Homo sapiens: one gene and its partners. The protein of the gene in region 1 interacts with the protein of each later gene in a pairwise test. Each region holds a gene or a part of one and is shown in the gene's direction. Other genes may lie near its edges. The genes, in order: CD53, AIG1 and IFITM3.

What was found.
Region 2: the proteins of CD53 (region 1) and AIG1 interact in binary tests that used the Homo sapiens proteins (3 or more experiments, as listed by UniProt).
Region 3: the proteins of CD53 (region 1) and IFITM3 interact in binary tests that used the Homo sapiens proteins (3 or more experiments, as listed by UniProt).

What each region holds. Positions count from the first base shown.
Region 1 is NC_000001.11:110,889,998-110,893,747, forward strand, and holds part of CD53 (leukocyte surface antigen CD53), read left to right. Parts: intron 1-1,394; 5' UTR 1,395-1,411; coding exon 1,412-1,474; intron 1,475-2,347; coding exon 2,348-2,536; intron 2,537-3,750. UniProt on the Homo sapiens protein: Structural component of specialized membrane microdomains known as tetraspanin-enriched microdomains (TERMs), which act as platforms for receptor clustering and signaling.
Region 2 is NC_000006.12:143,336,883-143,340,632, forward strand, and holds part of AIG1 (androgen-induced gene 1 protein), read left to right. Parts: intron 1-1,095; coding exon of another isoform or gene 1,096-1,112; exon of another isoform or gene 1,113-2,756; coding exon 2,757-2,794; 3' UTR 2,795-3,750. UniProt on the Homo sapiens protein: Hydrolyzes bioactive fatty-acid esters of hydroxy-fatty acids (FAHFAs), but not other major classes of lipids. Show a preference for FAHFAs with branching distal from the carboxylate head group of the lipids.
Region 3 is NC_000011.10:319,026-322,510, reverse strand, and holds IFITM3 (interferon-induced transmembrane protein 3), read left to right. Parts: upstream 1-1,650; 5' UTR 1,651-1,697; coding exon 1,698-1,946; intron 1,947-2,520; coding exon 2,521-2,673; 3' UTR 2,674-2,835; downstream 2,836-3,485.

The sequences.
Region 1 (3,750 bases):
GTTTACAACAGAGAAATTCACTTTATTGTGGAAGAGAAGTAGCTCATCAGGCTTATCTACAGCCTGGATGAACTATTCCCTCAAGACCATGTGATTCCCAGGTACCTTGAAACTGCAAAGGAGATACTATGGATTGCACAAGTGACCCATGCACTGGAAAAGGCATAATTTTAATGGAAAAAAATCACTGCCCCAACATTCTGCTTGATATATCAGTCCTGTGCACGGTTTTAAAAATGAGTCACTTTATAGAATATCATTACCTCTGACAGAAAATTCAAAATTCTGGCCAGGTGCGGTAGCTCATGCCTGTAATCCCAGCACTTTGGGAGGCCGAGGCAGGCGGATCACCTGAGGTCAGAAGTTTGAGGCCAGACTAGGCAACATGGTGAAACTTCGTTTCTACTAAAAATACAAAAATTATCCGGGCATGATGGTGCATGCCTTTAGTCTCAGCTACCTGGGAGGCTGAGGTGGGAGGATCACTTGAGCCTGGGAGGTGAAGGTTGCAGTGAATTGAGATTGTGCCACTGCACTCCAGCCTGGGTGACAGATTGAGACCCTGAAAGAAGAAAGAAAGAAAGAGAGAAAGAGAAAGAGAAAGGAAAGGAAAGCGAAAAGGAAAAGTCAAAATTCTGTATCTGGATTTCTAGAATTGAGAACCAGACATTGGACATTGATGTCCTCACTAAGAAAATGATATTCTAGTTGAAAAAAATAAAGCTTACATTGCTATCTCTTTTTACTTCCCCATTGCATATTTGTTGGCTTGTTTTATCTTTGCTGTAAGACTGTTGTCTTCTGGAGGATAGCTACTGCTTAGTCATGGTTGCATCTTCCACAACATCTAGAACAGAAAACATAAATGTTTCTGCAATAAAAGAATAAATGAGGCGTGGATATGTTCCCCCTACTTTCATGTGGAGAAGTTTACTGATCAAATGTAGCATGTACATAAATCACAGAGTATTTAAGAAACTGGCTGATCAAGCTGTTGGCTTTCTTGATGGCTGATTGACCAGTCCATCCCTGACTTCAAGGGCTTAAGTGCCCAGGCACTAGTTGCTAATGCTGCAGTTAGAGCTAAAGCACTGGCCTGGTCTCTGTCACTGTGACTCATCCTCTTCTAAGAATGGCTCTATTTTCTTCTACAATACTTAATTCAATGTTAAGCATTGTTGGCTTGCCGAATTGGGCAAAAACTGAATGTCTAAGATGAGCCAGTTGGTATTTCAGTTTAGAACTAGGAAAGCGCAGAGTTTGGGGAAACTTTCCAGAGGAGAGCCACAGCTCAAACCCAAGGTAATGCTAGAGATCCCTGAACATTTGTGCACTCTGATCTCTGGCTACCTTACAGAGTGAGGTAACTTACTTTCTTCTTCCTTATTCCTTAGGGCAAGAATATCACGGCATGGGCATGAGTAGCTTGAAACTGCTGAAGTATGTCCTGTTTTTCTTCAACTTGCTCTTTTGGGTAAGTGTATCTCTTCTGAGCACGGTTTAGCTCACCTTTACCCAGCTAAGCTCTCCTCATTCCTCTACTGAAGAGGCTGGTGTGGGGTAAAATGCATGCGTGTTTGGGTCATGTCCAGCACAACCATCCTAGAAACAAAAGAGTAATAATTTTTCCCCTCTTCCTGCCACAGAATAAACCTGCAAAATTGAAAGGTACCAGTGCAGTTATTAATGGAGGTGCTGTTTCTCTCTGAGGGCTTTAGTTTACTACTACTCGTAGCTAACATATATAGGTGAGAAACCTGAGACTGTGCTCTGGATATTGAGTGCCTCTGTTTTTCTTGTCTTTTTTTCTAGATTCCTTGAAACAATAAGTGATTGAAAGGAAAGTCACCCTTTCCAGGGAGGTTTCACTGTATAAAATTCAGCAATTGAATTTCAGATATAGGATGGGTTGGTACTTGTGTATATGAGAAGATTATTATAAGTTTGGCTTCTCTAGTTTTCTGCCTAGCAAGATGAGCTTCCTCAAGCAGGGCATCTTCTCTACATGGTCATGGTTTCTACAGAGAAAGCCATGTGTGAGCGACTGAAAAGATAAGGAAAAAGAAGTTAGACCTATATATGGTGAAGATACTGTGTGGCTCACAGAAGTGATCTTTCCTTGGTATCTGGAGATGGGTAGGAAGAGTTGTGAGTAGGTCTCCACATGAGAAAGCTGAGATTGCCTCTCCAATGTAAGCATGGAAAAGTTTGGTAAAGAAATTGTTCATGAGACTCTTGATTGAGCCAGTTAAAAATAAAGTGATTCTGATCTCAAGGAAGTGAGAATATGAGGAGATACCCAAGAACCACATTTTGCTTCAGGATGTTGTGGGATTCTTCCTTTCAGATCTGTGGCTGCTGCATTTTGGGCTTTGGGATCTACCTGCTGATCCACAACAACTTCGGAGTGCTCTTCCATAACCTCCCCTCCCTCACGCTGGGCAATGTGTTTGTCATCGTGGGCTCTATTATCATGGTAGTTGCCTTCCTGGGCTGCATGGGCTCTATCAAGGAAAACAAGTGTCTGCTTATGTCGGTGAGTCCTTACAGCAGATGTGGTGCCCCAAGTCGGGGAGATGGTGCCTAAATCCCAGGCAAGATGTTTCTTGGTAGATCACTTATAGGCACAGAAAGATCATAGGAAAATGAGATTGGTACCTCAGATCAGCCAAGTCTGCCCAGACCAATAGTATATTATGTATGACTAGGGTCCCACGGACAGGTGAAAGAGGGCATTGCTATCCCCCTTGTAGCCATTTTTATATTGCTAATAATGACTTTTGTCATTATTGTAATTCCCCTTTATAGCATTTTATTTTTTCTTTATGTCTGGATGAAATCAGGTGTCATCCATCTTCCAAAATCCTCCTCATGCTAGCTATTATTATGTACTTTCAGATTCTGACTGAGAGTCGCTAACTAATGGAAAATAATTTCTAGGCTCTTTCCTCCCCAAATGCCAAAGGATGCTTCCTTAACTCATGTCTGCACAAGATACTCCGTAGAGAGATCCAACTTAGGTGAGGGCTCTGGCTGCAGCCATTGAGGTCTAATGTGAGAGATGCTACAGCCTTTTGCATGTTCCCTATCAGGTACTATCCTGAGGAGTACCTTAAGGCTTAGGTTTTGCCTGTAAGCACAGTGCCTGTAGAGCACTGAGCTCTACATTTCTGTAGTGTTCCCAGAACAGAGCTTGGTGTAACAGTGCCACTCTACCAATAGGCGTGGGTTTCTAATCACATTGGTTCTTCCTTAAATCATTTGGTTAATCTTTTTTCCATTATGGTTCAACATTTTGGTGGTGGTTTTTTGTTTTGTTTTTTTCTTCTTGTTGTTGTTTTGGAGATGGAGTTTCACTCTTGTTGCCCAGGCTGGAGTGCAATGGCATGATCTCAGCTCACCACAGCCTCCGCCTCCCGGGTTCAAGCCATTCTCCTGCCTCAGCCTCCCGAGTAGCTGGGATTACAGTCATGCGCCACCATGTCCGGCTAATTCTGAATTTTTAGTAGAGACAGGGTTTCTCCATATTGGTCAAGCTGGTCTCTAACTCCCGACTTTAGGTGATCCACCTGCCTCGGCCTCCCAAAGTGTTGGGATTATAGGCGTAAGCCACTGCGCCCAGTCTGTATGGGTCAACTCTTAAACTGGAGCCAAGAGAAAGAATTTTTTAAAAAGTCCCTCTTCTCAGATAGTTGTCAGACTAATGGCAAAGGATGGAAGATAGCAGACATGGGGTAAGGCAAATGTTTT
Region 2 (3,750 bases), on another chromosome or scaffold:
AGAATATACATTCCCATTCTGTAAGGGAGAAGTTGCAGGGGGAAAAAAAAAGAAAGAATCATGGTTCCCAAGCAAGTCTGAAGCTAGCGGGGGAAATTCCATTCCATTTTAAGGCTTGAAAATAATCCTCTTTGGCTAGATGTTCTGTCCTCAGGGCTCACAGGGGAGGGGATGCATAGCCCTGCCTTCCAGGCACAGGGTCACAGGAGCCCCACCCCCACAGCCCTGGGCAATAGTTCTACCCTCTACAACCAAGGAGGAGCCAGTCGCTGAACCATCTTTGAAGCCATTGGTCCTTCATTTCATCCTGTCTCTGTCCCTTTCAGTCCATGCTGTCAATGTTTCTGCTGGTATAAAATTCTCAAAAACCTTATTGGCCTCCCATGCAAGTCATGGGGGTCCAAGCAGTCAGACAAGAGGGCACTCCGCGGATCTTTTTCAGATAACCACCTCTCTATTTCTGGCATCTACTGTGGAGGTTGATTGGATCCGTGAGTCACGTACCTAATTTCGTTAGCACATGGCTGTCCAGCCACACCCTTGGCATTCTCTCCCAATCTGAGGTACTGAGAGTTAAGCACTTCGATGTAGCAGTTTGGCGGGGTGGAGCGCGGGGGGGGACACAATTCACAGCTGAAATATTTCTTTACTTAAGCTAAGACTTTATCCCAATTTTGGTATATCTGACCAGTCTTACTAAAGCTACATTTTGTAAGACCAGAAATGAGTCTTTTCAAAACCAAAAGGTTGGTGTGAGGACAGAGAAAGTAGGCAAGCGGGGAGACAGGAGACGTCTATGTGTGCAGAAACCTGCACCTCTTCTCCTCCAGCTACCCGTGCAGGTCATTTCCCCCCAGGCCCATCCAGGTCTAGCGATGTCCCAGCACTGCCCCCTGGTGGAGCCCTCCACCGGCCTGCAGGAAGGGCATGTGACTGACTCCCTCAGCGCCCTGCAGTCTTGTCCCCTCTGGTCCCAAAAGTGTATCCTGCCTTCGCTTTGCGATAGGTTTCTTCCTGCCCTTTGCCTGGAAATTTTATCTCTGGTTCTTGCAAACATTATTTACAGCTGTCTAATTTTTTCTGTCTACCTCACAGCTGCCAAACTAAAGTAGGTGGGAAGCCATTTTCCCTCTCTAGGTCAATGAATACCCCCCGTTCTCCACCCGCGCTTTTGAAGATTCCAGCACTGCTGCCAAGTCAACCCATCTGCAGGAGAACGCTTTGGAAAAAACAGACTTTAAAAAGAAAAGCAAACTGCTCTTAGCCCCTGATAGCTTCTCCACAGGAGAGGGAATATGGACAGAGCTGAGGTTCAAGACACATGTGCTGTTTGAGCTGAATCTGTGCTGTTTTCTTCTTTCCGTGGTTACCCAACAACGAAGGCGTGTTGTACCTTCTTGCCTTCAAACCTGTTCCTCCTCCCGTCAGATGTCCTTACTCCTCAATTTGAAGTTTTCCTTCATAGGATTTCTGAGAAGGACTTTGGAAAAAGTGCTCCAGATCTCTGCCAGTTCCTTAGCCATGAAAACCAAACATAAAAGATCATCTGGGGACATTCATTCAGAGCACGTTACCCACATTCCACCACCACTACTCTGACAGCACAAAACATATACCAGGAGCTGGGGTTATGTGGTGGGGGAGTCCTTCCTATTGTAAGCCCTAACATTATGACCCTCTGGGGTTAAATTTTATAATTTTCATATTGTGGAGTCCCATATTTTGTTCTGCTTTCCACTAGTCCAGGCTTCTGAGGTCTTCTCTGTGTTCATTGCTTATTAATTTTATTCAGCAAAGATTAATTGAGCTCCTGCAATGAGACACACACACTATGTTAGGTGCTGGGGAACAAAATAGGGAAGGGCCCTACCCTCAGAAAGCTTGCAATTTATGAAAGAATACTAACAAAACCTGCAAAGTGGTATTTTAAGTTATTTTGTTTCATTTTTGCTATTGAAACAAAGAAACTGAGAATTTGGTATGATTCAAAAAATGTTTAGGTACAAGAAAAAGAAAAAAGCAAGAAGCACTTGCCAGATTTAACTATAATTCCTAAAAATGATGAACATTTTCATCTTCAGGAACATGAAACATCATCGACTATTCTCTACAGACAACAGGCAAAGGTTCTTACTGGTCCAGTACATACAAGTCCTTCAGGAAGAAAAACATGATTCTACCAGGATTGGGTTGAATAGAGAGAGAATTGCAGTTTAAGATTCATGAGTATGGAAATAAACAGCTCTTATGGCTAATAAACTCTCTATGAACTTTAAAAAGAAAACAAGAAAAAAAAAAGCATGGCTTTTTAAAATCCAAAGTCCTTGCCTTAGGAAGAGACAGGACTAAAGTAAAAATAAATGAAGTCTGTTTGAAACTCATGAGTTGCACACCTCATGTTGCCAGAAGCTGGTTTAAAAAGCAGTCTAGCTGGGATTTCCATGCAAACTCAGCAAGTCATGAATCAACTTGAAGCCTTGTCTCCCAGAGGCCATAGGAGCTGGGTGTGTCCCAGAGATGCTGTGTCCTGATTCTGTGGAAAGGGTGGGGAAGAGAGGTCACTGAGGATGTTTCTGGAGAAAGTTGTGCATGGCTTTCCTTCTTAGCTAGGAGGGAATAGGGGGTGTGTCAGGAGGGTGAATGGGAGAAGTGAGGGCAGATGAGTGGATGTGTGAGTAGTGTTAGCAAGCCAGATTAAACAAACTGCTTGTGGTTTAATCTGATGCTCAAATAAAACACTTTGCCTGTATTTCTAGGTATGGAAGAAGAGAAAGAAAAGCCTAAATTGGAATGAGATCCAAGTCTAAACGCAAGAGCTAGATTGAGCCGCCATTGAAGACTCCTTCCCCTCGGGCATTGGCAGTGGGGGAGAAAAGGCTTCAAAGGAACTTGGTGGCATCAGCACCCCCCTCCCCCAATGAGGACACCTTTTATATATAAATATGTATAAACATAGAATACAGTTGTTTCCAAAAGAACTCACCCTCACTGTGTGTTAAAGAATTCTTCCCAAAGTCATTACTGATAATAACATTTTTTCCTTTTCTAGTTTTAAAACCAGAATTGGACCTTGGATTTTTATTTTGGCAATTGTAACTCCATCTAATCAAGAAAGAATAAAAGTTTATTGCACTTCTTTTTGAGAAATATGTTAAAGTCAAAGGGGCATATATAGAGTAAGGCTTTTGTGTATTTAATCCTAAAGGTGGCTGTAATCATGAACCTAGGCCACCATGGGGACCTGAGAGGGAAGGGGACAGATGTTTCTCATTGCATAATGTCACAGTTGCCTCAAATGAGCACCATTTGTAATAATGATGTCAATTTCATGAAAAGCCTGAGTGTATTGCATCTCTTGATTTAATCATGTGAAACTTTTCCTAGATGCAAATGCTGACTAATAAAGACAAAGCCACCCTGAACCTGACGTCTGCATTGTGCATCTCAAAATCCTAACAGCATTAGTATCTCCTTTTCATTTTTATTACCTGTTGAAAATGGGTTTACTGAACCTGGTTCTTTCCTATAATTTTTGGATTTTAAAAAATGTGAATCTTTTTGATAACTCCAAAACAAATTTTTTTTTTCTTTTTTTCCAGATGGAGTCTCACTCTGTCGCCCAGGCTGGAGTACAGTGGCGTGATCTCAGCTCACGGCAAGCTCCGCTTCCCGGGTTCATGCCATTCTCCTGCCTTCTCAGCCTCCCGAGTAGCTGGGACTACAGGCGCCTGCCACACGCCCGGCTTATTT
Region 3 (3,485 bases), on another chromosome or scaffold:
GATAATCCAGCTGCCTGGGCACCACACTGAAGGTAATGGGATAATCCGGCTGCCTGGGCACCACAGTGAGGGTTATGGGATAATCCAGCTGCCTGGGCACCATAGTGAAGGTAATGGGATAATCCAGCTGCCTGGGCACCACAGTGAGGGTTATGGGATAATCCAGCTGCCTGGGCACCACACTGAAGGTAATGGGATAATCCGGCTGCCTGGGCACCACACTGAAGGTAATGGGATAATCCGGCTGCCTGGGCACCACAGTGAGGGTTATGGGATAATCCAGCTGCCTGGGCACCATAGTGAAGGTAATGGGATAATCCAGCTGCCTGGGCACCACAGTGAGGGTTATGGGATAATCCAGCTGCCTGGGCACCACACTGAAGGTAATGGGATAATCCGGCTGCCTGGGCACCACACTGAAGGTAATGGGATAATCCGGCTGCCTGGGCACCACAGTGAGGGTTATGGGATAATCCAGCTGCCTGGGCACCATAGTGAAGGTAATGGGATAATCCAGCTGCCTGGGCACCACACTGAAGGTAATGGGATAATCCGGCTGCCTGGGCACCACACTGAAGGTAATGGGATAATCCGGCTGCCTGGGCACCACAGTGAGGGTTATGGGATAATCCAGCTGCCTGGGCACCATAGTGAAGGTAATGGGATAATCCAGCTGCCTGGGCACCACAGTGAGGGTTATGGGATAATCCAGCTGCCTGGGCACCACACTGAAGGTAATGGGATAATCCGGCTGCCTGGGCACCACACTGAAGGTAATGGGATAATCCGGCTGCCTGGGCACCACAGTGAGGGTTATGGGATAATCCAGCTGCCTGGGCACCATAGTGAAGGTAATGGGATAATCCGGCTGCCTGGGCACCACAGTGAGGGTTATGGGATAATCCAGCTGCCTGGGCACCATAGTGAAGGTAATGGGATAATCCAGCTGCCTGGGCACCATAGTGAAGGTAATGGGATAATCCAGCTGCCTGGGCACCATAGTGAAGGTAATGGGATAATCCAGCTGCCTGGGCACCATAGTGAAGGTAATGGGATAATCCAGCTGCCTGGGCACCATAGTGAAGGTAATGGGATAATCCAGCTGCCTGGGCACCATAGTGAAGGTAATGGGATAATCCAGCTGCCTGGGCACCACAGTGAGGGTTATGGGAGACGGGGTTTCACCGTGTCAGCCAGGATGGTCTCGATCTCCTGACCTCATGATCCTCCCACCTCAGCCTCCCAAAGTGCTGGGATTACAGGCGTGAGCCGCGGCGCCCGGCAGAGGTGAGGGCTTTGGGGGAACGGTTGTGGGGCCTGGAGTGTGGAGGCGTCAGCGCAGGCCTGGCAGGAGCCCTGAACCGGGACAGTGGGGTCCTGCAGCTGCTGGCCTGGGGTGTGGAGACCCCCAACACAGGGGAAGTCTCCAGGACCCCACACCACTAACAAGATGAGCCTTGTGCTCCCTTGGGCTCTAGAGAGGAAGCCCCTCTTAGCCCTCAGCCCCTCTTTCCTCCCTCTCCTAAAGTAATTTGATCCTCAGGAATTTGTTCCGCCCTCATCTGGCCCCGGCCAAATCCCGATTTGACAAATGCCAGGAAAAGGAAACTGTTGAGAAACCGAAACTACTGGGGAAAGGGAGGGCTCACTGAGAACCATCCCAGTAACCCGACCGCCGCTGGTCTTCGCTGGACACCATGAATCACACTGTCCAAACCTTCTTCTCTCCTGTCAACAGTGGCCAGCCCCCCAACTATGAGATGCTCAAGGAGGAGCACGAGGTGGCTGTGCTGGGGGCGCCCCACAACCCTGCTCCCCCGACGTCCACCGTGATCCACATCCGCAGCGAGACCTCCGTGCCCGACCATGTCGTCTGGTCCCTGTTCAACACCCTCTTCATGAACCCCTGCTGCCTGGGCTTCATAGCATTCGCCTACTCCGTGAAGGTGCGTATGGCCCCAGGGAATGCTCAGAGGGTGCCGCTGAGCCTGGAGCTCCACCTGCCCACATGCTGCCTGGGGTGGGGACTTGTGTGTCCCTGTGACTGTGAGTTTGTGTGCACCTCTGTCCCGTGTGTGCCCACGTCAGTGGCTTTGTCTGTGTGATCTGTGTGTGTGTGTGGCTTGGGGAATCTGCCCAGTGCAGGTTTAGGAGGAGGCTCCAGGAGGCTGGCTGGCTGGCTCAGAGTCTGTCCCCGGCTATCCACTAGCCCAGAGCAGTTCTCCCTATAGCCCAGTAAGAAATTACACCTTCACCTTCCAGACTGGCACCCAGGCTCTCCCAGAAAGTGAGAAGGGAACTCACAGGTGACTTCACCCCATGGTGGGGAGAACAGCCTGTGCTGAGGTCAAGGCAGAAGGAGGATGAGCCCCGAGGCTCCTGGAGAGTCTGAGCCCGGGTGAGGAAGGGGAGGAGGTGGTCCCTGATCTCAGGGCGGGGAGAGCCAATGAGGAGACGGAGCCATAGCACGCGGCTCTCAGCTGGGGGATCCTGGTCCCCTCACCATCTCCTCTCCCCCAGTCTAGGGACAGGAAGATGGTTGGCGACGTGACCGGGGCCCAGGCCTATGCCTCCACCGCCAAGTGCCTGAACATCTGGGCCCTGATTCTGGGCATCCTCATGACCATTCTGCTCATCGTCATCCCAGTGCTGATCTTCCAGGCCTATGGATAGATCAGGAGGCATCACTGAGGCCAGGAGCTCTGCCCATGACCTGTATCCCACGTACTCCAACTTCCATTCCTCGCCCTGCCCCCGGAGCCGAGTCCTGTATCAGCCCTTTATCCTCACACGCTTTTCTACAATGGCATTCAATAAAGTGCACGTGTTTCTGGTGCTGCTGCGACTTCACCTGGGGAGGGGTCTGGCTGAGGGTTCGGAGCGTGGTTCTGAGACTGAGCAGGTTGGTCAGCCCCTGCACTGCCCCTTCCGGCCTCTGTGCATCTCTTGGGGACCGGGCAAGTGCTCAGGCCTTCTGGTTTCGGGCCTCCTGCCGTGAGCAGCAGCTGGATCCAGGACCCTGGGAGGAGTTCCTGTGTCCTGCAGGTCTCAGCTCCTACTCAACGTGGGCTCTTTCCGGGAACGTCAGTGCTGAGTCCGGGACACCCTGGGCCCAAGGCCACGCTCGCGGCCTGTCGGCAATCCAGGCTGTCGGCTCAGGACAGAGGGAAGGGTTAAGCCCCCAGCAGGGCCAGGGAGGGGCAAGGTGGCACCGGCTCCCCAGCTGCTCCCAGGCCCTGCTCTGTGGTGCTGGGGACCTGGCTTTAGTTCCTCGGGGTGGAGGGGGCACCGCGCTGCCTGCCTCCGAGCTGTCTGGAGCAGCCAGTCCTGCAGATGTGGGCAGCTCAGGGCCCGTGGGAGGGAGGGGGCTTTGTGCCCAGGGCAGCAGCTGAAGGAGCCCCGGGCCTCGCAGCCCCTCCTGGGTGACCAGGTGCTGCTTCGTGGCAGCTGCCCCCTCCCGTCCAGCGGGTATGGGCCCTGCTCCC